2 separate regions of the Homo sapiens genome follow, and region 1 is linked to region 2. The links come from fine-mapping of genetic effects on gene expression. A gene starts in region 2. The other region holds a variant in brackets. All regions are shown on one strand. Distances are from middle to middle.

Region 1 (15,686 bases), 30 kb before region 2:
TGGTTTGGACAAGCTTGCTTTATAACTGGTGAGTCCAACACAAATCAGGCTTCAAAAGGGATTCTTCCTCCTTTCCTGCCCTCCCTTCCTCCTTCACTTTCTTTTTACATATGAAGAAACCAAAGCTCAGGGAAGTTAAGCAACTTGCCCCAAGTCACACAGCTAGCAAGAGGCTAGATCTGAACCAAAATTTGACTCCAGGGTCCATGAGTTCAGGGTTCTTGGAAAGCCTTTCCCTGGAAGTGTGGGGGAGCCTGGGAAAACTCCGCCTCCTCCTCCCAGCCCTTGCCCCCCACCTCCAAGGATCCTCAGGATCGGGTGCAAGGTCTGGAGCACAGAGTAGCCGACTACCCCGGAACCTCCCCCACACACGTATATTACCCCGCAGGGCCGGGGGGCACGGAGATGCAGTCCAGAGGGGCCAACTGTTTGATCCGCAGGACAAAGATCCCGGCCCCCACCCCTAACTGGCCAAGTGGCTCTGGGCCACACCCCTATAGTCAGAGGGTCGCCGTTTTCGCACGGGGTCAAAGGGCACAGCAGGCCTTGCCCTCCCCTGGCCCCGGCCGCGCTTTGGAAAGGGAAAAGCTGAGCGGAGACACCGGGAAAGCGACGCTCCAGAAACACCGGGGCCGCAGAAGTAACAGAGGGCGAGCGGGCGGACGCCGAGGCGGGACCCCCGCAGAGGCAGATGCAGCCTACCCTTCTTTTCCACTGCGGCCCCCGAGCCCCTCGCGGGAATGCACGTGGGGCCTCCTGCCGAGCCCTTCCGCCCCACCCCAGTCCTGCCGCCCAGCACTCACCCGGCAGAATCCCCTAGCATGCGCCGCCGTAGCAGCCGCAGCCGCCTGAGCCGTTCCAGGGGCCTCGGCCGGCCGTCTTGATTGGTCAGGTGAGGGGCAGGGCCGGGACGTCTGGTGAGCGTTACTCGGCGATCCGAAGTGTCAGTTTCAGCGTGGGGGCGGGACTAAGAGCGGAGCTACACAACCGATTGGTCAATTTTCGAGGCCGGTGCGGAGGTCGATTCCTGGAATGGGGCGGGCCCCGGAAGGGCGAGCTCCGATTGGTCAGCTGCGGGACTGGATACGCTGAGTTCAGCAGCGGCAGTTTCAGTCAGGCTGGGCGGCCTAGGCTCGGCGCAGGCGGCAGTCCGGAGCGGCGGGGTAGGTGGGGCAGGCGGCTGGCTACTCATTGTACTCATCGTTTCATACTTTTCTTTTTTTTTTTTTTTTTGGAGACGGAGTCTCACTCTGTTGCCCAGGCTGGAGTGCAGTGGCGCGATCTCGGCTCACCACAATCTCTGCCTCCCGAGTTCAAGCGATTGATTCTCCTGCCTCAGCCTCCCGAGTAGCTGGGACTACAGGCGAGCGCCACCATGCCCGGCTTTTTTTTTTTTTTTTTTTTTTTTTTTTTTTTTTTTTGTATTTTTAGTAGAGACAGGGTTTCACTATGTTGGCCAGGCTGGTCTCGAACTCCTGACCTCGTGATCCGCCCGCCCCGGCCTCCCAAAATGCTGGGATTACAGGCATGAGCCACTGCGCCCGGCCTGCTTTATACTTTCATTCAGGTTTTTAGCGAGTGCCCGCTTTGCGCCAGAAGATAAGGACTACACAGTAAACAAGAAAGTGTAGTATTGGGGCCGGCCGCGGTTGCTCACGCCAGTAAACCTAAAAATACAAAAATTAGCCGGGCGAGGTGGCCGGCGCCTGTAATCCCAGCTACTAGGGAGGCTGAGGCAGGAGAATCGCTTGAACCCAGCTACTAGGGAGGCAGAGATTGCAGTGAACCGAGATCGCGCCACTGCACTCCAGCCTGGATGACAGAGCAAGACGCAAGACTCCATCTCAAAAAAGAAAAAAAAAAAAAAGATACCCAGCCTGGGCAACATGGCAAAACCCCGTCTCTACAAAAAATGAGCCAGGCACGTACCTGTAGTCCAGCTACTCGGGAGGCTGAGATGGGAGGATCACCTGAGTCCAAGAGGCTGAGGCTGTGGTGAGCTTTGATTGCACCACTGCACTCCACCCTGACTGAGAGACCCTGTCTCAATAAATAAATTAATTTAAAAAAGAAAGAAAGTGTGGTATTGGCGTCCAGGTAGACAAATGGATCAATGCAACAGAATAGAGTTCCGATATGTGAGCAATTAATTTTTGACAAAAATGAAAGTGCAATTCAGTGGAGAAAGGATAATGCCTTCGGCCCGGGGCGGTGGCTCACGCCTGTAATCCCAGCGCTTTGGGATGCCGAGGTGGGCAGATGGCTTGAGGTAAGGAGTTACAGCCCAGCGACACCCAGCACCCCCCCCAAAAAAATTTATTTTATCAATAATGTGTGTGGAAACTTGGGAAAACAAGAAGAGATGGTGTCTTCAACAAATGTTGTAGGTATAATTGGATATCCACACACTCATCCTAAAAAAAAAAAAAAGAAACCCATATGCAAAAATTAACCTAGAATGGATCATAGATCTAGTTGTGAAACCTAAACTATATAACTTAGAAAAACTGGGGCCGGGCGCAGTGGCCCACGCCTGTAATCCCAGCACTTTGGGAGGCCGAGGCGGGTGGATCACCTGAGGTCAGGAGTTCAAGATCAGCTTGGGCAACATGGCGAAACCCCGTCTCTACTAAAAATACAAAAATTGGCTGGGCGCGGTGGCTTACGTCTGTAATCCCAGCACTTTGGGAGGTCCAGGCAGGCGGATCACCTGAGGTCGGGAGTTCCAGACCAGCCTGACCAACATGGAGAAACCCCGTCTCTACTAAAAATACAAAATTAGCCGGGCATGGTGGCGCATACCTGTAATCCCAGCTGCTCGGGAGGCTGAGGCAGGAGAATCGCTTGAACCCGGGAGGCGGAGGTCGTGGTGAGCCAAAATCGCACCATTGCACTCCAGCCTGGGCAACAAGAGTGAAACTCTGTCTCAAATTAAAAAAAAAAAAAAAAAAGAATGAAAAGAAGATAGGTAGCCCCTCTACCTCCAGAAGAGCCGAGGGTGATAACACCAGGCACCGAGCTAGCAGGAAGCCCTCCGACTCAAGAAGATGGCTGATCCTTGGCAGGAATGCATGGATTATGCAGTAACTCTAGCAAGATGAGCTGGAGAGGTAGTTTGTGATGCTCTAAAAAATGAAATGAGGCCGGGCACGACGTCTCAGGCCTGTAATCCCAGCACTTTGGGAGGCCAAGGCGGGCGGATCAGTTGAGGTCAGGAATTTGAAACCAGCCTGGCTAACATGGTGAAACCCCGTCTCTATTAAAAATAGAAAAAAATTAGCCGGGTGTGGTGGTGGGCACCTGTAATCCCAGCTACTCGAGAGGCTGAGGCAGGAGAATGGCTTGAACCTGGGAGGCGGAGGTTGCAGTGAGCCGCGATTGTGCCACGGCACTCCAGCCTGGGTGACAGAGTAAGACTGTCTCAAAAAAAAAAAAAAAAAAAACTATATATATATATGAACCCACATTCACTACTGGTGGGGATATAAGACAGTATAACCACTTCACAAAATCTGTAGAAGTTAAACATAAATTTACCATATGGCCCAGCAAGTCCAGCCTGAGATATCTACCTACAAAAAATGAAAACATCTGCCTACACAGAGATTTGAACACTAATGTTCCTAGCAGAAATACGCATAATGTTGTCTAGAAGATCACCAGGGTGGCTAAATAGTAGAAAGGAGCACTTTATTGTTGATACTTGTTTGCAAACCAGGAAGAGATGGTTTGCAGCATGCACTGAAGGTGCTCTCTTCCAAGAGAGAAAGGACAGGTTGGGTTTTATGCCTCACAGGGCCCATATTCATACATATTTAGCAGGTTTGAGGGAAAAGCTGTATACATATTTATGAGAGGAGGTGAGCTCATGTGCATTGGCTAAACAGGTTGTTCACAGCTTCTGTAAGCTGGCTGAAACTGGCTTAAGTTCTGCAGTTGCTTATCAGAAAAGAATGTTTATTGGCTGGGTGTGATGGCTCATGCCTGTAGTTCCGGCACTCTGGGAGGCTGGGGCAGGAGGATCACTTGAGCTTGGGAATTAGAGGCCAGCCTGGGCAACACAGTAAGATCCCATCTATTTTTTTTTTTTTTTTTTGAGACGGGGTCTCATTCTGTTGCCTAGGTTGGAGTGCAGTGATGCAATCTCGGCTCACTGCAGCCTCCACCTCCTGGGTTCAAGTGATTCTCCTACCTCAGCCCCCGGAATAGCTGGGACTACCAGTGCACACCACCATGCTGGGCTAATTTTTGTATTTTTTGTAGAGACAGGGTTTTGCCAGATTGCCCAGGCTGGTCTCAAACTCATGAATTCAAGCGATCCTCTCACCTCAGCCTCCCAAAGTGCTGGGATTACAGGCATGAGGCACTGTGCCCAGCCAACATACATTCTCTATTTGAAAAATTAAATTAAAAAAAGAAAAAGAATATTTGTGTCCAGACATGGTGGCTCACACCTATAATCCCAGCACTTTGGGAGGCCAAGGTGTGAGGATCATTTGAGATCAGGAGTTCGAAACCAGCCTGAGTAACATAGTGAGATCCCTCGTCTCTACAAAAAAACAAAAAATTATCCGGGCATGGTGGCGCACACTTTTAATCCCAGCTATTCGGGAGGCTAAGGTGAGAGGATCACTTGAGTCTGGGAGGTCAAGTCTGCAGTGAGCCGTGATTGCGCCACTGCACTCCAGCCAACAAAAACCTACCTCAAAAAAAAAAAAAAAGTTTGTCAGACCGGTCCCCTGTGTAATCAGAGGCATAAGGGTTTGGTTTGTAAATCAAGACTTGAGATAATTTGCCTGATGGCTCCTGATGTTAGGGAGTTTAGCGAGTATGTTGTTTTTCTTTGTAACTGAAAAAGGTTACTAATCAGTGAGTGAGATTTTTGTTGTTGTTGTTGTTGTTTTGAGAGGGAGCCTCCCTCTGTTGCCAGGCTGGAGCGCAATGGCGTGATCTCGGCTCATTGCAACCCCCACCTCCCAGGTTTAAGCAATTCTCCTGCCTCAGCCACCCTAGTATCTGGGATTACAGGTGCACGCCACCAAGCCTGGCTAATTTTTGTATTTCTAGTAGAGATGGGGTTTCACCATGTTGGCCAGGCTGGTCTTGAACTCCTGACCTCGTGATCCGCCCACCTCCCAAAAGTGTTGGGATTACAGGCGTGAGCCATCGCGTCTGGCCCCAGGGGCAGATTTTTATCCACCTTAGTCACTGCTATATCTCCAGTGCTTAGAACCATGCTTAGCACATAGTAAGTGCACAAATATTTTGCTGAATTAATGAACTTCCTCATTTGAGGAAATTAGGGAAAATAGACCATTGGATTTTGAGATTAGGGCTCATGCGTATGAAATGTCTGACATACTAAACTCTCAAAGTTCGCTGTTCTTATCTCAAGCCTAAGAGTCCCACTTAGACACAGGAAACCATCCACTTGAGGACACGGTGAACAACTTAGCTGACATCTGCGAGGAGGGCCCTGCTTCTGAGGCCACATTATGAAGCCAGATGCTCTCCGAGAGAGCTGCCTGGGCTGTCACCCCAGTGCTTGGGACACAGTGGAACATTCCTGACTACCTACTTTTTGTGATTAAATAGGGACATTGTTACCAGAGGGCTAAAACTTCCAGCCTCTCAGATTCGCCAGTGGACAGATGAGGTAGTCAGAGAAAGCACAGGAATGAGGCTGGCCTTGACTGGGAATAACTAAGCAGCATTTGCATAAGGCAAGAAGGCCCTTTTTCAAACTATGGCTCATCACCCGGGATGATGCTGTCGTGAACAATTTAGTGGGTTGTACATAACATCTTGTTAATGACAGAAACTACTTGTTTTGTGGATTGCAAAAAAAAAAAAGGTAATGATTCATTTTTTTTTTGTTACCTGAGAAAGTCTTTGGCTGCTGCCTTGAAACAGCCACAAGATGGCGAGGATAGGCGGGGACAAGGCAGGAACAGGAACCTAGATCCGGGCTGATGGTTATGATGGAGGTGAGGAAACTGGGCAGGGTCAACAGACTTGGAAGACAGCAGGTGACAGATTTGGTGCAGCACGTGTGACCGTGGACTCGAGGGTGATGCCCCAAGTGTGTAGCCTGGGAATCTGGAAGGATGAGGTTGCTATCAGCTGAGCTGTGGCCTCTGTGGGCGAGCAGGGCGGACACTGGGCAGCACCAGAGCCAAGAGGACAGCTGTAGGGGCGGGGAAACTGACTGACTACCCCTGTATCTACTCCTGAGGACCCTTAAAAAAAAAAAGAAAAAAAAGCGGTGGCTCACACCTGTAATGCCAGCACTTTGGGAGACCGAGGCAGGTGGGTCACAAGGTCAGGAGTTTGAGACCAGTATGGCCAAGATGATGAAACCCTGTCTCTACTAAAATACCAAAATTAGCCAGGCCTGGTGGTCGGCGCCTGTAATCCCAGCTGCTTGGGAGGCTGAGGCAGAGAACTGCTTGAACCCGGGAGGCGGAGCTTGCAGCGAGCCGAGATCGTGCCACTGCACTCCAGCCTGGGCGACAGAGCGTGACTCCATCTCAAAAAAGAAAAAAAAAAAAAAGAATAGTGGCAACCAAATTCTCAGAAGGCAAAGCAGGATGGAACAGTGAGTCATTTACTTTTTAAGTGAAAAATGGTCTGGAGTTACAGAGAAATCTGTAAAGAAATCAGTCTCGATTTCCTGATCCTTAAAGATCAGTTAAACCATCTGTTCTTTTGAGAGTATCAAATTCCTTCCAAGAATAAGGAGCCAGATTATAGTGGGAACTTCCCCAAAGTTATGGTCACTTCAGAATACAGCTGGCCATGTCAAAGAGGAGTTTGTACAAGAACCCAAAAAGACAGATCTCACAAAGGATTTCCAACTAGGTTTTATTTTAGTTTCCAATATTATGAGCAATGATACAGGAGTAACTCAAGCAAATACATCACCTTAAATACATCAGAGAAAACTCACTGTGTCAGCACGTCTTGCGCTCCAGCAAATGAACATAAAAACAACAATGTCAGCAGCATTAAAGTGCTTTTGGCCATACTTCTTTCAGAAAGGGTCTCTCCCTCAGTGGTATAAATTTAATTTTACGTATTGAAGAAGCTCAAAATTTCATTCATTCCCCAGGGGCTACATTGAAAAAAAATTCATGTTTACGCTAAAGAATTTTTTTTTTTCAAAAAGAGCACAAAATCCATTGGAATTGTGTGACAGTGATTTTCCCTGACATGCTGTGAAGTGGCCCCTGTCCATTCAGGCCCGGCACACGCCGGGAACATCCACCCACAGCATGTCCACCTGGCAGAGTCCATCACTTCGCCCCACACAACAGGACAGACTGAGGGCTTTAAATACAAGCAGGTATGTGAACAGGACATCACCTGTGATGTGGCCACCAAACAGTGCACAGAGGCTACCAACTCATTTCCTCAAAGATGAGTGATGGCTGGGCTGCTGGGCCCCTGCCTTGTGGGCTGCTTTTTGGGAGAGGTGTTGCTTATTTCTAGGAAGCGATCCAACTTGTGCCACACAGGATTTGTCACCCAAACTGCTTTTCTCACACAGTCAACACCTTGGTGACAGGCATCTGCCCCCACTTCAACCAGTAACAATCCCAAAACTCAACATCAGCATAAAGACAAGGGGGTCAGTCGAAGGTTCTGGAGATCAGGGAGGGTGGAAAGATGGACACTGGGTTTTCCACATTGTCCCTTGGCCAACTGCAGTCACTGGCACAGGAAATTTAGTCCAGGGCACTTGGGACAAGGTTGGGGGTGGGGTGGAAACATGTCTCTTAAAGGGCACAACAGGGATGCAATCAAGCCTAGTGGGTGGGGGCTCTCAGACCCATGAGCCCCTCGCAGAACGAGGCCAAGTGGACGGCCCATTCTCCAGCTGTCCTGTGTGGGG[C/G]CCATGCACCTCAGCCAGCCACCAACGTCCCCACCTTCCACCATCCATCCTTCTACTACATCCTTCAACCACCTAGACCATGCCATCTTCCAAAACAGATCTACACAAAACAGGCCTGCACAAGTCCAGGACTGACACTAAAGCAAAGGACACAATAATGAGAAGAGAGGCAAGTCCCTCCTTGTCCCAGTGACTGCCACCTGCTCTGCCAGCTCCCCATACATCCAACAGCCCTCCCCTCTGAGCTACTCCCACTCCTCCAGCTGCCTCAGCAGCATCCTTTCTACCACCCCCAGCACAGGGCCCGCCTCAGCCTAAGCCCAGGGGTAACTGAGCCTCACCACCAAGACGTGTCTGAGGCTCTGCAAATGGGATGAAGCACTGAGCCAACAGGCGAGATGGACACACACAAGCCACAGTCCTTCTGGGACAGACTCTCTGGGAAGAAACTCCAATCGTCCCTTACACCTGCAGGTGTGCTGGGCTGCAAGGAGGGCAGGTGCGCACAGGCTGGAGGAAGGTGGGGGTGTCTGTGTGATACCCTCAAAGGCTTCCATGAGGCATTGTGCAATGCTGAGATCCTGAGGCCTTATCAAGCAATCAAATGAACCAGAGAAAGCTGGAAAAAGCCTCAACTTAACTCCTTGGTACCATGCTGTCCATAGCTGTCGCTGAAAGTGTCCTTTGGGGGTATGAGCCAGCTCTTCCAGCAACAGCAGGCAAAGGTGGGGGAAAATAAGTAGTGCTGGAGGGCTCAAAATGGTACGAGACTGGGTGCTTCATTCTCTTGGCAGTGGCCAGGGGGCAGGAGCCACACGTGCCCCTGGGGGAGCCCACATGGCACTTAGGGCTGGCAGCACCGCCCCTCTCCACGCAGACTCCGCCTCAGGTGCCCACTATCTGCTGGGCTGCAGGTACTGGTGTGTGAACATGTTGAGCTCACTGTCCAACCAACCGGCTTTATTCCTGCAAAGAAATGGTTCTTTTGTAACCATGATAGCTGATGATAGGCAGTATTAGGACTACCCGCCAGGCACCATCCTAAGGACGCTTGACACACACCCTTACATCATCCTCCAACAATCGTGTTTATCCCTGTCTCACAGATGGGGAAAAGGAGGCCCAGAGGGGTTAAATAACTTCCCAAGGCCACACGGCTAATAAGCCAGGGAGCTACAAGTTAGGCTTTTCTGATTCTCAAGCCCTGTGTTTCCTTCACCCAGGACCATGTGCAAGTCCCTGAGCTGTCGGGAACTCAGTTTCCCTGCTTGCCAAGCAAGGGGTTGAGGTGCTGACAGGAGACCCTTTCCAGGTTCAGCTGTGTCACTGTGGCTGACAAGCAGCAGTTCCCCCCATTCCCCCTTTCTGAGAGTCCCCAGAGGGCAAGCAGTGTGTCCCTAGGAAGCAGCTGTCCCCAGGTGGGGGTGCGGGGGGGGCACATCCGCAGTCGAGGGCAGGGAAAGCCCAGTGATCCGGTGAGGGTTGGAGCTGACACCCTCTGATCCATCTCCCCTCTGGCTCTGCCACCCTGCAGACTCTGACGTCAGGGGCGAGGGCAGGAAGTGCAGGGTCCCCGTGTGCTGATGCTATCATGGGCTAGGCAGGCCGAGGACTTCTGCAGGGTCCCCGTGTGCTGATGTTATCATGAGCTGGGCAGGCCGAGGACTTTTGCAGGGCACTTTTACATTCAGTCATGCAGCTGTGTCATGAAATCTTACTCCCATTTTACAGATGAAAATAATGAGACACAGGAGAGTTAAGAGCTTGGGCCAAACATGAGTGGCTGGAGAGAACCCAGGACTCCAGACTCCTCAGACTGATGTTCTTTCCAGCAAATTATTAATGAAAGCTCCACAGAGACCCCATGGAGATCTGAGTTCCAATCCCAGCTCTGCCAGTCCCCAGCCAAGTAACCAGCTTCTCTGTGGGTAAATGGGGGGCTATGCCCTCTTCATGGGTCCAAAGAGTGGCAGGTAAGGAGAATCAGAGTGCGGGGGCTGCTGGAGCCAAGTACACCTGGGCTCCCCTCCTAGCCTGGCCATTTTTTGAGATGCCAGACAAGTTCCCCAACATTTCTATGTAGAAAATGGAGAAATAGGGAAGACTGAGTGAAATAGCACATGTTAAGCGCTGTAGGCCCTGCGGTTCAGCACAGGGCGCTGTGAACTGCAGTCTCGCAGTACTGTGATGCCATCATGCCTTCAACTGCAAGTGCCTTGAAGGCAGCGACGCTGTGTCTTGTTGAGCCTCCAGCACCATCTGGCATCCATGAGGTACGTGGTACACATCCATTTTTTTTTTCTTTTTGAGACAGAGTTTTGCTCTTGTCGCCCAGGCTGGAGTGCAATGGCATAATCTCGGCTCACTGCAACCTCCGCCTTCTGGGTTCAAGCCATTCTCCTGCCTCAGCCTGTCGAGTGGCTGGGATTACAAGCACACACCACCACGACCAGCTAATCTTTGTATTTTTAGTAGAGACGGGGTTTCACCATGTTGGTCAGGCTAGTCTCAAACTCCTGACCTCAGGTGATCTACCTGCCTCAGCCTCCCAAAGTGCTGGGATTATAGGCGTCAGCCACCGTGCCCAGCCCATGGTACACATCTAACACGAATGAGCTAAATCCCCACCAGAAAAATTTGTGTCCACACCCAAGACGCAAGCCCAGCAGCTGAGCCCCAGTGTGCCTGGGCTGCACCCTGGAGCCCTAACCTTTGGCCACACGGGCCAGCCTCACCTGAGCAGCTTTGCTTTGCTCTGAAGTGAGTCAAGAACCTCAATTTTCTTGTTCATGGCGGCAATTTCCTGCTCCAGGTTCTCCCGGGTGACGTCAACTTGCTGACACAGATGAGCAAAGGTCCCAGACAGTTCCCTGGGGAGGAGAGAGAAGGGACCCAGTTGGGGTGTGTGGAGCAAGATGCCACTGGTGGCTTAGCCCACCCACAGTAGGGAGCAGCTGGGCCTGTCTATATCCCTGCCAGCAGCTCTGCCCTGAGCCAGGCCTGGTTTGGCAGAATCTCCTACACCCTGCTGAGACTGAATAATCATAACAACCAAACACACTCAGCATCACCACGGCCTGAGAAGCAACAGCACAGAGCTGTGCACCCTGGTTTGGGCACAAGAGATCCTGACTCTGCTGCTCATCAGCCGAGTAGCAGAGGACACGTCACTATTTTTCAAATCTCAGTTTCTTGATTTTGAAAAAGGAGATGGCCCTCTCCCTCTCCCGCTCCCTCTCCCTCTCCCCACGGTCTCCCTCTCCCTCTCTTTCCACGGTCTCCCTCTGATGCCGAGCCGAAGCTGGACTGTACTGCCGCCATCTCTGCTCACTGCAACCTCCCTGCCTGATTCTCCTGCCTCAACCTGCCCAGTGCCTGCGACTGCAGGCGCGCGCCGCCACGCCTGACTGGTTTTCGTATTTTTTTGGTGGAGATGGGGTTTCGCTGTGTTGGCCGCGCTGGTCTCCAGCTCCTAACCGGCAGTGATCTGCCAGCCTCGGCCTCCCGAGGTGCCGGGATTGCAGATGGAGTCTCGTTCACTCAGTGCTCAATGTTGCCCAGGCAGTGGCATGATCTCAGCTCGCTACAACCTCCACCTCCCAGCCGCCTGCCTTGGCCTCCCAAAGTGCCGAGATTGCAGCCTCTGCCCGGCCGCCACCCCGTCTGAGAAGTGAGGAGCGTCTCTGCCTGGCCGCCCATCGTCTGGGATGTGAGGAGCCCCTCTGCCCGGCTGCCCACTCTGGGAAGTGAGGAGCACCTCTTCCCGGCCGCCATCCCATCTAGGAAGTGGGGAGCGCCTCTGCCCCACCACCCCGTCTGGGATGTGAGGAGCGCCTCTGCCCAGCCACAACCCCGTCTAGGAGGTGAGGAGCGTCTCTGCCCGGCAGCCGCCCCGTCTGAGAAGTGAGGAGCCCCTCCGCCAGGCAGCCGCCCCCGTCTGGGAAGTAAGCGTCTCCGCCTAGCAGCCGCCCCGTCCGGGAGGTGGGGGGTCAGTCCCCGCCCGGCCAGCCGCCCCGTCCGGGAGGGAGGTGGGGGGGGTCAGCCCCCGCCCGGCCAGCCACCCCGTCCGGGAGGGAGGTGGGGGCGCCTCCGCCCGGCCGCCGCCCCATCCGGGAGGTGGGGGGCGCCTCTGCCCAACCACCCCTTCTGGGAAGTGAGGAGCCCCTCTGCCCGGCCACCACCCCGTCTGGGAGGTGTACCCAACAGCTCATTGAGAACGGGCCATGGTGACGATGGCGGTTTTGTCGAATAGAAAAGGGGGAAATGTGGGGAAAAGATAGAGAAATCAGATTGTTGCTGTGTCTGTGTAGAAAGAAGTAGACATAGGAGACTCCATTTTGTTCTGTACTAAGAAAAATTCTTCTGCCTTGGGATGCTGTTGATCTATGACCTTACCCCCAACCTGGTGCTCTCTGAAACATGTGCTGTGTCCACTCAGGGTTAAATGGATTAAGGGCGGTGCAAGGTGTGCTTTGTTAAACAGATGCTTGAAGGCAGCATGCTTGTCAAGAGTCATCACCACTCCCTAATCTCAAGTACCCAGGGACACAAACACTGCGGAAGGCCCCAGGGTCCTCTGCCTAGGAAAACCAGAGACCTTTGTTCACTTGTTTATCTGCTGACCTTCCCTCCACTATTGTCCTATGACCCTGCCAAAACACCCAAGAATGATCAATTAAAAAAAAAAGAAAGAAAGAAAAAGGAGATGGCTATAAGACAACATCTACCTCCAAGAGTCAGAGAAATAATTAGGTGCAAAATGTCTAGAGCAAAGGGTCTGCCACACACAATAAAAAAAAGGAAGCGAGGATATTCATCCCCACCACCCCAGATTAGGCAATAGATTCCCACCTGACCTAAGATGTGCACGAAGATCAGGCTGGGTTCAAAAACTTCAAAACTACATCCACAGCCCAAGCTCTTCAAGGCAACCTCTAAAACTCCTACTAGGAATATCTCTTGCCTTCCCATTTCTTCCTCACCAAGGGGCCCAGAGGCCTACCCCGTCCCAGCCCAAGACGCAAAGTGTCCCTGGGAGACCCCTCTCCCCATGACTGGCCTCAAAGCTGGCCCTGCACACCTGAAGGCCCAGGGTCTACGATGCTTAGGACCCAGTGGCTTCCAGGCCACGTGGGAAGAGAGATGGGGAAGGGAGATGGGGCTGACCCTGCCTAAAGGAAGTCCCCTGCTGGGGTCCGACAGGGCCACTCACTGCTGGACTTGGTGGCTGCAGTTGGAGCCAGTGTAGCTGATGACAAGCTGCAGCTTCTCGCTGGCATGCTCCACAAACTGGCGCTTGAAGGCCCTCTCCTTGGCCTTGGTGGTCCAGGTCAGACGCTCATAGACGTAGAGGAGGCCATAGAGCCCAAAGGAGAGGGCAATGAGCCGCCAGCCCACTGCCTTCCACACCTGCAGAGCACATGGTCAGCCTGGAGTGCAGCCTCTCTGTGGCCCACCCTCCTCTGGGGCCCATCACTACCAGGGCCATCTGAAGGGCCCCAGCCAAGGAGCCTTCATGTTTCTACTCTGAGTTCCTCTTTCAATGTCTCCTTTGATCCCACCGAGGCCAGAAGGTCTGGGACCATGTCCAGCAGGAAGTGAGGGAAACTTGGTGAGGGAGTAAGCGCTCCCCATGCAATCACAGAGGAGAAAGTATGCAGTGGACTGTGGAGTGTGGCCCAATGCAGGGGCCACAGCAGGAACCTAGCCCTCAGGCCCCGCCCACCTGCCCTCCGCCCCCACCTTCCCGAGCAGAACTGGTCACTGACCACTCCTCCAACAACAAGAATGCCCATGGAGGTCCTGGATGTCAAGGAGGCCAGGCCGGTAACCATGGAAACCATGAACTCCTCCTGGGTGAGCGAGCCCTGTGGCAGTGGGGGCATGCTGGGGTTGGCTGGCGTCAGAGGGATGGGACGCTGGACCTGAGGAGAGAAACATGAGAGGGGTGAGGGGGACGTATTGAGTCTCTCATTCACGTGAACCCTCAGTGTTGCCCTAGTCTGGGGAACAGGGACACAGAGTGGCTCTTCAATTTCCAAAAGGCAAAAAGGGGACAACTAGCTTCAGATGTAGCAGAGGAGACCCTCAGGTGAGCACCACGGGACGTGCAAAATGTGAGCAGGAGCCATCCTGACCCGCCTGGCAGCTTCCCCGAGTGTGGGATGTGTACAGAGGGCAGTACATGTGACAACTCAAGTGGTTTAGAGATGAATGTTTTTAAAATCTGAACTTTAAAATAGTCGTATGTAGGTGGTTATTTTTAAAGTCGTCTATTTTTAATAGTTACATACTTACTTTAATGTGTATTAGAGAAAAATACTAGCATCTGTCATTTCACAAATATCACTGCTTAGAACAAATCCAGGTCAATCAGTAGCAAAAATTCTGTCTGTGGTGTACTGTGTGGTGGGGCACACCACCACAGCTGCTGACCTTAGGGAACCCCCGTTTTAGAATGGTTCCCGTGTCTGGAGGCAGGGTACAGACTGACCCCCCACAATGCCCTTGAGGTGAGGAACTTTGCTTGCCTGGTCATTGTAGCCCATCAAGGCCCGACGGCTGTTCTTGGGGCCCAGGAACCTATTCACCAGCATGGTCCATCCGAGAGAGAAATGGAACTCAATGTCTTCCTGGAAGTCAGCACACAGCTTGTCACAGTTTAGGTCATAGTTGAGGGAGAAGCACTGGCGTGGGACCAGCATGTCTATCTGACTCCGCACAGACACAGGAAGGAGGGGTTTCAAGCCATCTGTCAGGAAGAGAAATGGAGGAAAAGCTTATCAGCTCAGCCCTGCACCACAGCGGCACCAAGCCTTGGAGACAGGGCTCTACCAGCTACTGCCAGGGATGCTGAACAGCTTTGCCTGGGAACCACACCCCAGTCAAGTTGGCCCGTGAGACTGAGCATGCCTCACTTGAGGCCAGCTCTCCCAGGCAAGTGTGGACTCAGATGCCATACTGCTAACACTTATGCCTCACGTGGACTTAAAGGAGCAGGCCCAATTCTCAGCCTAGGGTAGACCCATGTAGTAGAACAAGATGGGCTCCCCAACCCTGTGTACAGAATGAGTTCACAAGGCCAGGGCCGGTGGCTCATGCCTGTAATCCTAGCACTTTGGAAGGCCAAGGCAGATAGATCACTTGAGGTCAGGAGTTAGAGACCAGCCTGGCCAACGTGGCAAAACCCCATCTCTACTAAAAATACAAAAAAATTAGCCAGGTGTGGTGGTCACGCCTGTAGTCGCAGCTACTCGGGACGCTGGAGCAGAAGAATCGCTTGAACCTCGGTGGCAGAGGTTGCAGTGAGCCAAGATCATGCCACTGCACTCCAGCCTGGGTTACGGAGTGCGACTCTGTCTCAAAAAGCAAACAAGAATGAGTTCAGAACATGTACCCAGAACCTGAAGGTATCGAGTTGAATCATCATGAAAAGTGACAGATAAGGAAAGTCCTGATTTCTTTAGCTTGGCCTCCGCATCTGATCTTTGGGCAGCCCAGGGCCACAGCTGCCCAGTTCCCCATGGGCACTAACCTATCATGTCCTGCTGCATGGTCTGCAGGGAGTTGGTGATGGCCGTGGAGCAGCGGTCAGACATGTTTCGACCCAGTCCTTCCTCTATGTGGCGGTGCAGCTCCTGCCACCAGAAGAGGGAAGTTAAGAGAAGCATGTCCATCAAAATTCCCTTCAGGCCACATCCACCAGGTGACCCCAGAAGGCTGACGGAAGCCTGGGCCTTGTCTCTGTGGCTTCTACTGTCACTGCTGGGGGGCCCTGACCCAGACCAACAGG
Region 2 (15,686 bases):
TGTCCTTCTAAAGAGGGAGCCTGAGGAAGCCAGTGCTGGAGTTGACACTCAGACGAGCGGGGCCCTGGGAACCAGTCCTTCTCTGCTGATAGACAAGGAACTAGAGGTTGGGCTCAAATTAGTAACTAGTAGAAAAGGCATAGGTGACGTGAGTTTCCTATAGTTCTGTCACCAATCTAAAAATATCAAAGAAAGGGCGCCCTGGTCAGGGATCACTGACACCCAAACAGTGCCTGGTATTAATGGCAGCCAGAACTAGGCAAAGGAAAACACGTGGGCTCCGGAGTTGGAGACACCTGGGTAAAACCCTGATCTATTACTTACAAGGTATCGGACAACTCTCAAACCTCAATTTGCTTGCCTTGTAGATGGGGATAAGATTCACCTATCTTTCATGATTAAATGAAACAAAACATGTGGACTTCTTAAAGTAATTACTAAATGGCAGTTCCCTTGTCTTCCTGGCCTCATCTCCCCAGACTCCAATTCCACATGATTTCAAGAGCAGAGCATTTCTAAGGCTATCTGGTTATGACTTCCCTGGGAGCAGAGATATACCTCCCCACCCGCAAATCCCACTAGCTAAATATCTAAACAGGTAAGAGCGGGCCTGGCTGAGCCGGTGCCCCCTTACCTTCAAGGAAGGTGGCGCTCTCCTGGATGTAGGCCCCCAGCTGCTCAAAAATGCCATTGATCTTCTTCTTGGCAGTGACAAAGTGCTTAAGTGGGGATGCATTCACCTCAGCCATGTGTCTCTTATTTTTCTTGACTGTGACGATAGAGTTGCATCGAGAGAAGAGCAGGGACATTGCGCTGCAAGAGAAGCTAACGTGAGCGAACCCAGCAACACCTACCTCGGGACATCCTGCTAGGGAGATGGCGGAATGCTTTGGGGAGAATCAAGAATATGGGGATCTCAGGTCACTGCAACCTCCAGGACTAGAACAAAGGACGGTGAGATAAGAACAGTGTCTCAGGCTGGGCGCGGTGGCTCACCCCTGTAATCTCAGAACTTTGGGAGGTTGAGGCAGGTGGATCACCTGAGGTCAGGAGTTCAAGACCAGCCTGGCCAACATGGTGAAACCCCCGTCTCTACTAAAAATACAGTAATTAGCCAGACCCAATGGCACACACCTGTAATCCCAGCTACTTGGGAGGCTGAGACAGGAGAATCACTTGAACCTGGGAGATGGAGGCTGCAATGAACCAAGATCATGCCATTGTACTCCAGCCTGGGTGACAGGGCGAGATTTTGTCTCAAAAAATAAAACAAAATTAGCATGACACAGTGGCATGCATCTGCAGTCCTAGCTACTTGGGAGTCTGAGGTGGGAGGGTCACTTGAGCCCAGGAGTTTCGGCTGCAGTGACCTATGATCAGTCCACTGCACTCTAGCCTGGGAGACAGAGCAAGACCACATAAAAACACTATTGGTTAGGGGCCAGGTTCAGTGGCTCATACCTATAATCCCAGCACTTTGAGAGGCCAAGGCAGGCAGATCACTTGAACTTTGGAGTTCGAGACAAGCCTAGGCAATGTAGGACCCCGTCTCTATTTAAAAAAAAAAAAAAAAACAGCCAGGCATGGTGGGTTATGCCTGTAATCCCAGCACTCTGGGAGGCTGAGGCAAGTGGATCACAAGGTCAGGAGTTCAAGACCAGCCTGGCCAACATGATGAAACCCCGTCTCTACTAAAAATACAAAAAAATATAGCCGGGTGTGGTGGTGGCCGCCTATAATCCCAGCTACTTGGGAGGCTGAGGCAGAGAATTGCTTGAACCTGGGAGGCGGAGGTTGCAGTGAGCCGAGATCGCACCACTGTACTCCAGCCTGGGTGACAGAGCCAGACCAAGTCTCAACAAAGAAAAACACACACACACACACACACACACAAAAACTATTGGTCTATTTTAGTATAGCACAGGTGTGCTACAGAAAATTTGGAAACTGAAGGGGAAAAAAACCCATAACCCCATCATTTTGTGATAAGCAATGTTAACATTTTATTTACTTATTTATTTTTTATTTTGAGACAAGATCTCGCTGTTACCTGGGCTGGAGTGCAGTGGCGCAATCACAGCTCACTGCAGCCTCAACCTCTTGGGTCCAAGCAATCCTCCCACCTCAGCCTCCTGAGTACATGAGACCACAGGCATGCACCACCACGCCCCACTAATTTTTTTAAAATTTTTTGTAGAGACAGGGTCTTCTTATGTTGCCCAGGCTGCTCCCAAACTCTTGGGCTCCAATGATCCTCTCACTTTGGATTCCCAAAGTGTTGGGATTAAAGTGCTGGGATTAAAGGCGTGAGCCACCATGCCCAGCCAACATTTTTTTTTTTTTTTTCTGAGACAGAGTCTTGCTCTATCGCTCAGGCTGGAGTGCTGTGGCATGATCTCGGCTCACTGCAACCACCACCTCCCGAGTTCAAGCTATTCTCCTGCCTCAGCCTCCCAAGCAACTGGGACTACAGGCACTCGCCACCATGCCCGGCTAATTTTTGTATTTTCAGTAGAGGTGGGGTTTCACCATGTTGGCCAGGTAGGTCTTGAACTCCTGACCTCAAATGATCCACCCACCTTGTCCTCCGAAAGTGCTGGGATTACAGGCATGAGCCACCACGCCCGGCCCAACATTTTGTTTATTATAATTTTTTTTTTTTTTTTGAGACAGAGTCTCACTTTTGTCACCCAGGCTGGGTGCAGTGGTGCAATCTCAGCTCACTACAACCTCCACCTCCCAGGTTCAAGCGATCCTCCTGCCTCACTCAGCCTCCTGAGTAGCTTGGAGTACGGGCATGTACCACCACACCCAGCTAATTTTTTTATTTTTCGTAGACAGGGCTTCACCATGTTGGCCAGGCTGGTCTCAAACTCCTGACCTCAAGTGATCCATCTGCTTCGGCCTCCCGAAGTGCTGGGAATACAGGCGTGAGCCACCGTACCCAGCCATATTATCACAGTCTATTTTTGTGTGACTGTCTCTCTTGCTCTCACTCAATCCTACATATCTTTGTAGCTTATCTTTTCATATAACAACATTTTAGAGGTCATGAGACTTGACTCCAAAGTCCTAGAGGTCTTTGGTCAAAGGTCAAAAGAGGCTGGGCATGGTGGCTCACACCTATAATCCCTGCACTTTGGGAGGCCCAGGCGGGTGGATCACTTGAGACCAGCCTGGCCAACATGGTGAAACCCCTTCTCTGCTAAAAATACAAAAATTAGCCAGGCATGGTGGCAGGCACCTGTAATCCCAGCTACTCGGGAGGCTGAGGCACGAGAATTGCTTGAACCTGGGAGCTGGAAGTTGCAGTGAGCTAAGATCGCGCCATTGCACTCCAGCCTGAGCAATAGAGCAAGACTCCATCTCAAAAAAAAAAAAAAAAAGATCAAAAAGAGGCGTACACACCAGAAGGAGTGCCCAGGGTAAGACTGGGAATTCCGACCCCAAAAGTGGACCCCTGCCAGGTCCCTCAGAGTTCCCACCACGGCGAAAGCTACTTCTTGAGCAGAGCCCACCAATCCCAGGAAGTCAAAGGGCAAAGGCCCTCCTGGATGAGGGGGTGTGTGCACAGCTGACTGTGCCTGGGTCTGTCACTGCCTCCCCAGCCACCCTAATCTTACTGCTCAGTTCTCCACCCAGCAGTAAGCTCACTCTCTCTAGATTGGAAATGAGGTGTTGCTCCCCAGCAAGCACACGTGAAAAACTTCCAAATGGGGCCAAAGTATGTTGCACAAGGTCCTGAAAAGCAGAAAGAACACCCGGAAGAGGTACATGAAGACCAAATGCCAAAACGGACTTTTAGTAACTAACCATCCCAAAGAGTGGGCAGAAGACAGACCGACCCAAAGCGGGATAGGGACCCACATGTGTGCCCAAACCAACAAGTTCTTGTGCAATGTTAATGATTCCTCTGGAGACAAGGGAAGGAAGTGACCCCACTTCCGTTTCTACATTCCTCCTCAGCATGACGCCACAGCTATGAGAGATGTTTTCTCAGCATGGAAGCCATATGTCCAGGGCTTAAAGACAGTACAGCTCTGAGAAAGGAAACTGCAAAGAAAATGCTACTCTCACTCTTCCAAAGCAGCAAAGGAGAGTGCGCTGAAATGAGGCTTGCCATGGCCTGGCAGATCAGACTGTTCGAGAAAGAGGGGATGTGGCAGGCACAAGAGGAAAGCCATCCAAAAGGAATAGAAAAGGGATCAGGGGTCAGGCACGGTGGCTCATGCCTGTAATCCCAGCACTTTGGGAGGCCGAGGCAGGCAGCTCACCTGAGGTCAGGAGTTCAAGACCAGTCTAGCCAACATGGTGAAACCCCGTCTCTATGAAAAATACAAAAAATTAGCTGGGTGTGGTGGCGCATGCCTGTAGTCCCAGCTACTCCAGAGGCCAAGGCAGGAGAATCACTTGAACCTGGGAGGTAGAATTTGCAGTGAGCCAAGATCTCGCCACTGTACTCCAGCCTGGGTGACAGAGCGAAGTCTCTCTCTTTAAAAAAAAAAAAAAAAAAAAAAAAAAAGGGATCAAGGATGGGGCATGATATAGCACTACCTATGACAGGTTTTGTAATCAGGCAGAGCTGGGTTCAAATTGTGACTACATTATTTCTGGGCTGCTTAAACTTAAGCAAGTTATTTCATCACAGAACCTTGGTTTCTTCATGTGTACAACAAACAAGACACCTACTGGAGAGAGAAACTGTCTCAAATTATCTTTTTTCTCTACTCTCACACCATAATCATCAACACAAGAGACTTCTGTGACCAAATGTGAGGGGGTTTCTTCCCCACACACCAACCAGCGGACAGCAGCTGGGTATCCTCTCATTCAGTTCCCATGCTGTCTACCTGGAGAGAGTGTCAGATCCCACAGGTTGAGGGCTCAGTCCCCAGGACTGCCCCGCCTCTCCACCACCACCCCTCAAACATACCAGTTGCAAGTCTGGGCCTCCAGAATTTCTCACCGACTGGCTTCAGGCTGGGGTTCCCATGACCCCCTCTTTGAGTTCAATTAATTTGATGGAGCAGCCTACCTAGCCCAGGGAAACACTTACTTACGTTTACCAGGTTATTATGAGGGATATCGCAAAGGATACAGATAAGGAGACGCTTAGGGCGAGGTATGGGGGAAGAGGCGTGTAGTTTCTGTGCCCTCCCTGAGCAGGCCTCTCTCTAGGAACCTCCGTGTGTTCAGCTATCCACAAGCTCCCTGAACTCTGTCCTCTTGGATTTTTATGGAAGCTTCATGACATCAGCATTCCTTCCCCCAGGATACAGGGTCCACCCCTCTCAGGGGAGGGTTTTAAGGCCCACAATCAGGTGGGGAAAGATTAGGGTGGAAGGAGAGCAGAAGGTCAGAGGCCTGCCCCTGAGGCCTAACACATCTAACATTATATCAAAAAACCATAACAAGGGCTGTGGATAGGAGTTATGAGCCTGGATCCGTGGATGAAAACCAATATCCTAATACCACAATACCATCTAAACTGTGAGAAGACTAAAGTTGATGACGCAAGCAACATGCTTCACTACAGTAAGAGCTAAAGGCAGCTTTACATGTTATAAAACAATAACAACAAACTCTACCAGCAAGATCACAAGACTCTCTCCATGAACACCCAGCCTTCAGGGAGGGCAGAGGCAACTCCGCCAACTCACACCACACACACCACTCCCTTACCCGCTATCACGGAGATCAAATAAACAGGTCAGCTGGGGAAGGATCAGCGATACCCCACTCCAGAAGTGACTTGCTGCAGGAAGCAAGTTCCCTGCCATCAGAAGCAGGTGCTTTTAAGTTCTGGTCAATGTTTGCAAGCCCAGGAGATATAAAACCAAAAGCATTAGTGCTCACTAACTGCAAGACTCGACAGCGTGTACACCAGTAGAAGCTTGGGAGCTCCAGGTTACAAGGTCTGCTGGGAGTTCAGCCGGTCCAGGAGCCTCCCTGCTCTCACTAATACCCAGCCTGCAGCTGCATCCAAACCCCTGGCGTAAAACCTACTGTCAACCCCTCCAAACTCTGCCTGATTTATCTGGCTCTGCTAACTTGCAAGCTGAGATTCCACATCTGTGTTGCATGAGCTGCTTTCTGCCTGGAATCCTCCTTCCTTTTCCACCCATTTGGCATACTCCTACTGTCCTTCTAGACCCAACTCAAGTGTCACCCGCTCCATGAAGCCTCCTCTGATGCCTCATAGAGAACAAACAACATCACAGACTTCTGGTTTTTATCACATCCTGTGTTCCCCAATTATCTCAAGGCTTTGACTGCTGACTCCCTACTCCTCCAGGGTGATGCAGGGCAGCTGGGTTCCTCCTCTGCCTCTGGAAAGCCTTGATAATCTCTGCTTCACCACAGACCTTGCCACAGGCACGTGGGGACCATCCTGCAAGCATAGCCTGAGAGCCCAGCTCCAACATCAGTGACACACTAAGCGTCACACTTCAAGCTGTGACTGCCTCATAAGTGCTCTGGAGATTACTGTTTTGGATAGTTTCTGGCAGCACTTCCCAAAGCGTGGTCCACAGAACTCGACTTGCACCCAATATCCCATGTAAAGAAGGTTCAATAGTAGAATCAGTTTGTAAAACACCATATGCTAGGCCAGGCGCGGTGGCTCACGCCTGTAATCCCAGCACTCTGGGAGGCCGAGGTGGGTAGATCACAAGGTCAGGAGTTCGAGACCATCCTGGCTAACACGGTGAAACCCCATCTCTACTAAAACTACAAAAAATTAGCCAGGCATGGCAGCATGCACCTGTAGTACAGCTACTCGGGAGGCTGAGGCAGGAGGATAGTGTGAACCTGGGAGGCAGAGCTTGCAGTGAGCCAAGATCACGCCACTGCAAGATCGCGCCACTGCACTCCAGCCTGGGTGACAGAGCAAGACTCTGTCTCAAAAAAAACAAAAAACAAACAAACAAACAAAAAACACCATATGCTACCATTTTCCTCAGTGGAGCACGTGAGCACAGCAAAAGAGTTTGGGAAGGAAGCCTTGTTGTAAAGACACTAGTTTAACTGTGTTGAATTCAGCATTTCACAAATATAATCAATGAAAAAACCCTTCTGTGTAATAGCTTTTAAAATCCCGAGGATCACACTTTAGGGAAAAGCCCACTCTTTCTGGTACTCTCCTGCCCCTACCCCTAAAAAGTGCCAGGGCACAGTATTAATAAATATTAACCTAAGACCAGAAATGAACCCAGTTCTAAATGGAAACTGCTATTAGCCCTCCAAGGTGGTCAACAGCTTTGCCTCAACCTAGGCTATTCGTTGAGGAGTATTAGGTATCTTGGGTGTAGAGACAGCAGTAGCAAAATTCACTGCAAGGTGTGTTTGGATCCCAAGCACAGTCCCTGAATCCACACCACCTCCTTACCCAGTGTTATGTACAGCAACTCCTAGCAGGGAAAATAAAATGGATCCACGGATCGTCTGCTGGCACAACTGGAAAAGAGGAGAAGCTGAGAAATCGAAACAAAAAGAGTATACAGGGTAAAGGGGACAGAGCAGAGTCTTAAAAGAGCAGTGACAAGGAGCCAACCTGTGCTGGGCCGAGATGGGGAAGAGCCAGCACAGCAGAGACCAAATGAGGGAGACAGAGACTAACTCTTCAGGGAGCCCAAGAGATCCCAGCCACTTCTGAACTGTCAACTTTTAAACAGGCTCTCTAAGCAACCAGCGAAATCCTTCACGGAAGTAAAAGATACGGTAGTTTTTCAACACAAGTTAGAAAGCTGTGGCTCTATACAAAGAGGATGCCATTCAAGAGACTTGCCACCAGAGGTCCAGGAGAGCACACCCCTGTCCACTCAGCTCAAATCCAGGGTGCCAGAAGTCACAGCTACTACTTACTTTTTTGGATGGTGAGAGATCTTCACAGGGTAGGCATCATGGACATGGCTGAAGTCCAAAAGACAAAAAGATTCTGAGTTCTCTTCTGTCCTGTCTCAGGTTGAGGTTGGCTATTGATTGACTGTGTTGACTCCACCAGTCCTGACTTATTAGAAAAGAAAAGGGAGATGGATCCGGTGTCCAAAAAAAAAAAACACTGGTGTACAAAACATGTCTAATCAGGTTTCAAGCCAAACAAACTCATCCCTGAGGGAAGCTTACTCATTGAGGTATTGGGGAGTTGCGCTGGCATGTGAGGAAGTGCCCTGGGGAAAAAAACGCAGAGGTGTGGGACCAATCCTGACTGTGCACACGTATTCCGCCATGTGCGGGTTTGAGGCACCACGGAGGTCCCTGCAGGAGCCCTGGGAAAGGTACATCCAGAGAGGGGAGAAGAGGACAGAGCAAAACTAGGAACAAAACTGGGCTTGAGGACTGTGGAACAGCTGACTATTGAGGAACAGAAGAACTGACTGAAAGCCAATGTGTTCAGCTACTGTAAAGTATCTCACTTAATTCTCTATTCTGTGGGACAGAGGGCTGGAATACTTGAAGATTTGTCTAAGCTGGGATCTGAAATATTAGCTCCCTTTGACTCCAAAGCTCCTGGAGTGCAGCAGCGCGATCTCGGCTCAACCTCCGCCTCCCGGGTTCAAGCGATTCTCCTGCCTCAGCCTCCTGAGTAGATGGGATTACAGGCGTGTGCCAGCAAGCCCGGCTAGTTTTTGGTTTTAGCACAGACGGGGTTTCACCATGTTGGCCAGGCTGGTCTCCAACTCCTGACCTCAGGTGATCCGCCCGCCTCAGCCTCCCAAAGTGCTGGGATTACAGGTGTGATCCACTGCGACCGGCCTCCTTCCTTTTTTAACTACATTGAGCTGCCTTCCTCCCCCAAGCCCCAAACCTTGGGACACCAGAGGCGGATAACCAGAGCCCTTTTCTGGGTAGAAAAGAGATAACCAGAGCCCTTTTCTGGGTAGAAGAGAGAGAGATGATTGAGAATTTAAAGAGGGCAATGAAGGATTACGAGAGGGGGTAACGGGCAGTTCTGCCTTCGTGCGTCTTAACAGCTATTTATTCAACATTTTCTGTGTGCCTTCTCTGTGTGTGTCAGGCGCCACGTTAGAAATGGATAAGAAACAGTCCTGCCCTCCAGGGCCTTACAGTCCGGTGAGAAGTCATATAAGTAAACAGGGCTGAACGAGAAGGCAGTAACTGCCCAAAGTGGGGATGGCAGGGCGCTCCCGCGGTGAACGTGGACACCTATCAGGTGCTGAGTAAATGCTGGCAAAATGAAGACAGGATGAAAAATAGAGAAGGGGCAGGGGTAGAACATGGCCGTGAAGGGTGGAAAGGCGGGGGCGATGAGAAGCTACAGGGGACCCCACCGACCAGTCCCAGGTCCCGTGGCCCGCCCCCTCCTCTCAGGGCCGGGGAGGGCCCGGCGGCGAGGCCGGAGAGTGGGGACCCCGCTTGACTGCATCCCAGACCCCCGTGGCCCCAGAATCCCGTCGGCCCACGCCGAGCTGCTCAGGACTCGCCGGGCCGGGCCGGGCCAGTCCCCGCCACCCCGGCTTGCTCGCCCTCTCACCTTCACCTTCCCGGCCTCGCGGCGGCCATCACACTCACTACGTCACCAGCGAGCGCCACCCCAGGGGGAGGCGGGAGGAGGGAAGTGGATAAGCGCGTCACCAGTCGCCTCAGATTGCCCCTCGACCCGGGTGAGCTGGTGGACCCTGAGCCCAGCCGGCTCGCCCCGCCTACTCCTTACGCCTCTGCTGCCCCGCGACTCGGCGCTTCGAGCGGCGTCTCAGCGCGCCACTCCTCCGCGCGCCACTCCTCCGCCGGCGCGTCCCAAGCGGACGACGCAGAGGCTCGGACTCCCACTGCATCATGGGGGCTGTAGTTCCGGTGGGCGTCGGCCGGAGCTGGGGGGGCGGGGCAAAGCGGGGCGGAGCCTCAAGCTGTCAAGGGGCGAAAAACCAAGGGCGTGGAGTAGAGGTTCCCGCTTTTTCGCCGGTTGTCCTAGAGCCTGACCCTGGGGCCTCTGCCAGCTCTGGAATCCAGATTTGCATTCTGTAATCTTAGAGGAGTGTTCTCTAGAGGGCCAGGCCTAGGGTGAAGTGACTCATCGGGCAGACAGAAGCGAGCATGGGCCTGCTGCCCTTCAGTCGCCTTTGAGGAAAGAAGAGCAGCAACAACGGCGAATCAATGCCAGTGACTGAACTGCGTCTCTAACATCCACCGCTGTATTTAACGTCCACAGCAGTCCCAGGAGAGGGAGAGGAGAGGTTACCCAAGCTCACATGGTTACCCAGATCACCGGGCCCCAGTGATGCGGCAGACACTACTAGGAAACCGCAGCAAACAGATCCCTTGCAGGACTTGGCCTCCGCAGAGAAGGCTCCAAGCCTGAGCGCGCCAGAACAGTAGGCACTAGCCACGTGTGGCTCTCGAGTCCTGAGCCAGTGCAAACGGAGATGCGCTATAAGACTTAGGACAAAAAAGGCTGTTAAACTATCTCAATTTTTAGGAAAAAAAAATATCGACCGGGCGCGGTGGCTCAAGCCTGTAATTCCAGCATTTTAGGAGGGCGAGGCGGGTGCATCGGGAGTTCAAGACCAGCCTGGCCAACATGGTGAAACCCCGTCTGTACTAAAAATACAAAAATTAGCCAGGCATGATAGTGCACTCGGGAGGAAGAGGCAGGAGAATCGCTTGAACACGGGCGGTGGAGGTTGCAGTGAGCCGAGATCATGCCACTGCACTCCAGCCTGGGCAACAGAGACTCCGTCTCAAAAAAGAAAAAAAAAATCTATCTTTGAGCCAGAGTCTCACTCTCACTCAAGCTGGAGTGCAGTGGTGCAATCACGGCTCACTGCAGCCTCGAACTCCTGGGCTCAAGTAATCCTCCCACCTCACTCAGCCTCCCAAGTAGCTGACCACAGATGCTGCAGCCATGCCTAGTATTTATCTTTTGTAGACATGGGGAAGCATTTCACTTTGTTACCCAGGCTGGTGTCCTGAACTCCTGGACTCCTGGAGTCAAGCAATCTTCTCCTGCCTCGGCTTCCCAAAATGCCGGGTTACAGGTACCTGCCACAGTGCAGGGCTATTAGCCCATTACTATTTATATGCTGACTACATGTTGAAGTGATAATATTTTGGGTCATTTGGGTTAAATACATTACTAAGATTAATTGCACCTGTTTCTTTTTAAAAATGTCGCTACTAGAAAATTTAAAATTACATAAGTAGCTTGCATTTGTGGGTCAAACTGTAATTCTGTGGGATGGTGCTGCTCTATAACCATGGTAGAACAACCTCAATTTATTGCCACAAACAACCTCAAGAGGCAAATCAGTACTCTGATATAGAAGTGACTGGTTTATCAGTCTCATGACGATGGCCAAAGGGAGCTGTCCTGCCCACACTGCCCTCTGAGTAGCCTAGTGCCCCGCGGGTCTGACTGTGGACTGTGGGGCCACACGCAGACTCAGCCTCAGGGTGTAGACAGGGCCCTGTCTGGGATGTAGCGTGCCTTGGGGCCTCAGCTGCTAGCTGCCTGGTACTGGGTCGGATTGTTTCCTCCTCCACAATCTCTGGACTCCCTAAGGAGAGGAACTCTAAATTCCACTTCCATTCTCTGAGGGCAGGAACTATAAATTCCATTTCCTCTTTTTTTTTTTTTTTCTTTTTTTTTGAGAAAGAGTCTCGCTCTCACTCTGTTGCCCAGACTGGAGCTCAGTGGCACCATCTTGGCTCACCGCAACCTCCGCCTCAGGCAATTCTCCCGCCTCAGTCTCCCCACTAGCTGGGATTACAGGCGTGCACCACCATGCCTGGCTAATTTTTGTATTTTTAGTAGAGATGGGGTTTCACCATGTTGGCCAGGCTGGTCTCAAACTCCTGACCTCAGGTGATCCACCCGCCTCAGCCTCCCAAAGTGCTGGGATTACAGGTGTGAGCCACCACGCCCAGCCTTCCTTTTCCTTTTTAGCAGAATCTTGCCCGTCAGGTGAAAGCCTGGATGTTCTCTCTCCTAAACATCTCCCCTGCCCACTCCCTCCTCTTCCCTAAATTTCCCTGCAAGCATTGGTCTAGGTCCTGGTCACTTGCCTGGACTGCTGTAGGAACCTCTGAATCCATTCCCAGGCATTTAGTCTTGTACTCTGCCCAGCAGCTGGGCTTTATCTCTGAAACACATCTGCATACTTGCCCAGCAAGTAGAGGAAATCTCAGTTTGGAGATATGTTTCAACCCATTAACATGTGTTTCTCATTGAGATGGCTGAATCCTCGTTTCAACCCTCGGGATGACAAAACTCTCCTAGCAGTGCTGAGTGTTATTGGGAATGGGTGCAGAGCACACTGATGTACAACTCCAGGAGACCTTTCTTTCTTACGTTTTTGTTTTTTTTTTTAAGACAAGAGTCTTGCTCTCTCACCCAGGCTGGAGTGCAGTGGCACAATCTCAACTCACTACAACCTCTGCCTCCCGGGTTCAAGCGATTCTCGTGCTGCAGCCTCCTGAGTAGTTGGGTTTACAGGCATGTGCCATAAAGCCCACCTTATTTTTGTATTTTTAATAGAGACAGGGTTTTGCCATGTTGGCCATGCTGGTTGAGAATTCCTGGCCTCAAGTGATCCTACCACCTCAGCCTCCCAAAGCGCTGGGATTACAGGCATGAGCCACTGCACCCGGTCCATATTACTTTTTGTTGTTGTTGTTGTTGACAGGTTATTGCTCTGTCACCCACGCTGGAGTGTAGTGGTGCAATCTTGGCTCACTGCAACCTCCACCTCCCAGGTTCAAGTGATTCTCCCAGCTCAGCCTCCCAAGTAGCTGGGATTACAGGCACCTGCCACCACACCTGGCTAATTTTTGTATTTTTTTGTAGAGATGGGGGTTTTGCCATGTTGGCCAGGCTGGTCTCAAACTCTTGACCACAAGTGATCCACCCGCCTCAGCCTCCCAAAGTACTGGGATTACAGATGTGAGCCACAGCATCCGGCCCCCCATGTTACCTATTTTGTTTGACTTTTTCATGGTGAAGATGAGTTTGTAATCAGAAAAAAGTTAACAGTTAAAAACAACCCTATGCCGGGCACAGTGGCTCACACCTGTAATGCCAGCACTTTGGGAGGCCGAGGCAGGTGGATCATCTGAGGTCAGGAGTTGGAGACCACCGTGGCCAACATGGTGAAACCTCATATCTACTAAAAATACAAAAACTAGCTGGGCGTGGTGGCGGGTGCCTGTAATCCCAGCTACTCGGGAAGCTGAGGCACGAGAATTGCTTGAACCCGGGAGGCAGAGGTTGCAGTGAGCCGAGATCATGCCATTGCACTCCAGCCTGGGCGACAGAGTGAGACTCCATCTCAAAAACAAAAACAAAAATAACCCTAACATACACAAACACACACACAGGCTTGTGTCGGCACAAACCAGCTCAAGAACGTTCAAAAAACAGATTAGACATGGTGGCTTTCAGAGAGAGGAACTGAGCAGCTGGGGGGAAAGGATGACAGAAAGATTAAGATTTGTGCTGTTTGAATTTACAATGAGTCAATTTTGAAAATGAAAAGACTAAAAAATCTTTTTTTTTTTTTAATTGAGATGGAGTCTTGCTCTGTCACCCAGACTGGAGTGCAGTGGCCCAATCTTGGCTCATTGCAACCTCCACCACCTGGGTTCAAGCGATTCTCCTGCCTCAGCCTCCCGAGTAGCTGGGATTACAGGCGCATGCCAACACAACCGGCTGATTTTTTCATATTATTAGTAGAGACAGGGTTTCGCCACGTTGCCCAGGCTGGTCTCAAACTCCTGACCTCAGGTAATCCGCCTGCCTCAGCCTAAGTGCTGGGATTACAGGTGTGAGCCACTGTGCCTGGCCTCAAAAATCTTTTTTAAAAGACTTTCAGGCCTGGGATGGTGGCTCACGCCTGTAATCCAGTACTTTGGGAGGCCGAGGCGGATGGATCACCTGAGGTCAGGAGTTCGAGACCAGCCTGGCCAACACGGTGAAATGAAACCCCGTTTCTACAAAAAATACAAAAATGTGTCAGGCATGGATACCTATAATCCCAGCTACTCAGGGGTCGAGAGGCTAGCATGACCTTTCTTAAAGGCTCTAAAAAGAGGGCTCTTGGCCGGGCACGGTGGCTCATGCCTGTAATCCCAGCACTTTGGGAGGCCGAGGTGGGTGGATCATCTGAGGTCAGGAGTTCAAGACCAGCCAGACCAACCTGGTGAAACCCTTTCTTTAATAAAAAAACAAAAATTAGCCAGGCGTGGTGATGGGTGCCTGTAGCCCCAGCTGCTCGGAAGGCTGAGGCAGGAGAATTACTTGAACCCAGGAGGCGGGGGTTGCAGAAAGCGGGGATAGCGTCATTGCACTCCAGCCTGGAAGACAGAGTGAGACTCTGTCTCAAAAAAAGAAAAAAAAAAAAAAAGAGGGCTCTTAAAACCTCTCTCCCTGCAGACACTCACACCAAGACACACACACACCCACTCGCCCTGAGCATCTTCCCTTCAGTGGTTTAAATGACCTTTAATAGAAACTCTCCAGTTTCTGACGGTCTGTCCCTCTCTTCAGAGGCATCCAGGACAGGGTGACCCAGTGTGGTGTGTGGACCTGTCACTCCCCTCCCCACAGGCAAGTAGAAGATCGAGCTGTGCACAGATGCCTCTTCTGTCTCCCAAGAGGTTCTCTGGAGTCGCTGTCTCCAGGGGACTACGGTTTGCTCTCATGACCAGCCATGGAGGCAGAAGTCCCAGACTCAGGGCAGCCCTTGGAGTCTGATCCAGGTGTCTTTACCCCAAAACTTGAAGCAGAAGTCCCTGGTGCAACACCTGTGCCTGGGAGAAGCTCTGGCCATGGCTTCTCACCCAGACAGTCTTTCTGGGCAACTTGGGGAAGCCCCTGTTCTGCTCAAGTCTCACCCCATGGAAGAGGTGGGGGAAGGGGGCCTTGGTTTTTCAGGAAGACAGGTTGGAGAGCACGAGTCACTACAAAGCAGTAAAAGTGAATGGTGTCTCCAGGGGCTGGGTCCAGAACACCACGGAGAGCCCCAGCCATAAAGGTGTGTTCCGCCTCTGGCCTGCAGGAATCTCTTTGAATCTCTTTGATTGGTGGCTCCAAGAGCAATGGGAAGTCAACAGCCAGGAGGCTGGACTGGGTTCCCTGGGACCCCGAGGTCCCAGAGGCTGCTGGGCAGTGGTTGTCGGCAAAGAAGAAAGGTCCAAGAGGGTCAGGCCTGGCCAATTAGGGATCGACGAAGGAGACTGCGATGTAGCGGGTGCCCCTGGTGGTGGGGAGCCCCTCATGGTAATGCGTGAGTCGTCCAGGGTGCATGAGGGTCCAGCCCTTCCTTGGGGCTCGGATGGAACAGTTGTAGCGCAGGAACCGACAGCCCCCGCCCTGGGAGACAGAAAGCATCAGTGGCCTTTCCCCACCGCCCCCCTGCCCGTCTGTTCTCCCGTCATGATCTCCTGTCATGGCCAAGTGGCCCTCAGCACTGCCTGCCTGGGGATGCCTTCTGGAGTGACAGCCACAAGCGCTGCTAAGGAAGACACTAAATGAAGAGTAGTGGCCAGGAGTGGTGGCTCACGCCTGTAATCCCAGCACTTTGGCAGGCCAAGGCGGGTGGACCACCTGAGGTCAGGAGTTCAAGACCAGCATGGCCAACATGGTGAGACCCCATCTCTACTAAAAATACAAAAACCAGCTGGGTGTAGCAGCGCACGCCTGTAATCCCAGCTATTCGGGAAGCTGAGACAGA

Evidence for each region. PIP is the estimated chance that this variant, and not a neighbour inherited with it, causes the effect.
Region 1: its variant is fine-mapped to the expression of MFN2 in whole blood (TOPMed, PIP above 0.99).

The regions. Positions count from the first base shown.
Region 1 is chr1:12,004,670-12,020,355 of GRCh38, reverse strand. It overlaps MFN2 (mitofusin 2), which reads right to left. Exons shown (of 19, transcript NM_014874.4): 14 at 15,429-15,531; 15 at 14,425-14,645; 16 at 13,663-13,818; 17 at 13,107-13,303; 18 at 10,630-10,764; 19 at 6,848-8,860. The coding sequence ends at 8,791. It overlaps MIIP (migration and invasion inhibitory protein), which reads right to left and starts at 858. Exons shown (of 10, transcript NM_021933.4): 1 at 804-858. RefSeq lists enhancers at 1-200, 949-1,028, 201-1,071, 11,119-11,783, 11,784-12,449 and 3 more and a silencer at 14,549-14,826. The variant C/G (reference allele first, on the strand shown) is at 7,895.
Region 2 is chr1:11,974,292-11,989,977 of GRCh38, reverse strand. It overlaps MFN2 (mitofusin 2), which reads right to left and starts at 9,534. Exons shown (of 19, transcript NM_014874.4): 1 at 9,494-9,534; 2 at 7,864-8,008; 3 at 635-813. The coding sequence starts at 809. It overlaps PLOD1 (procollagen-lysine,2-oxoglutarate 5-dioxygenase 1), which reads right to left. Exons shown (of 19, transcript NM_000302.4): 19 at 14,441-15,325. The coding sequence ends at 15,170. RefSeq lists an enhancer at 7,693-7,792 and silencers at 9,249-9,488, 9,659-9,918.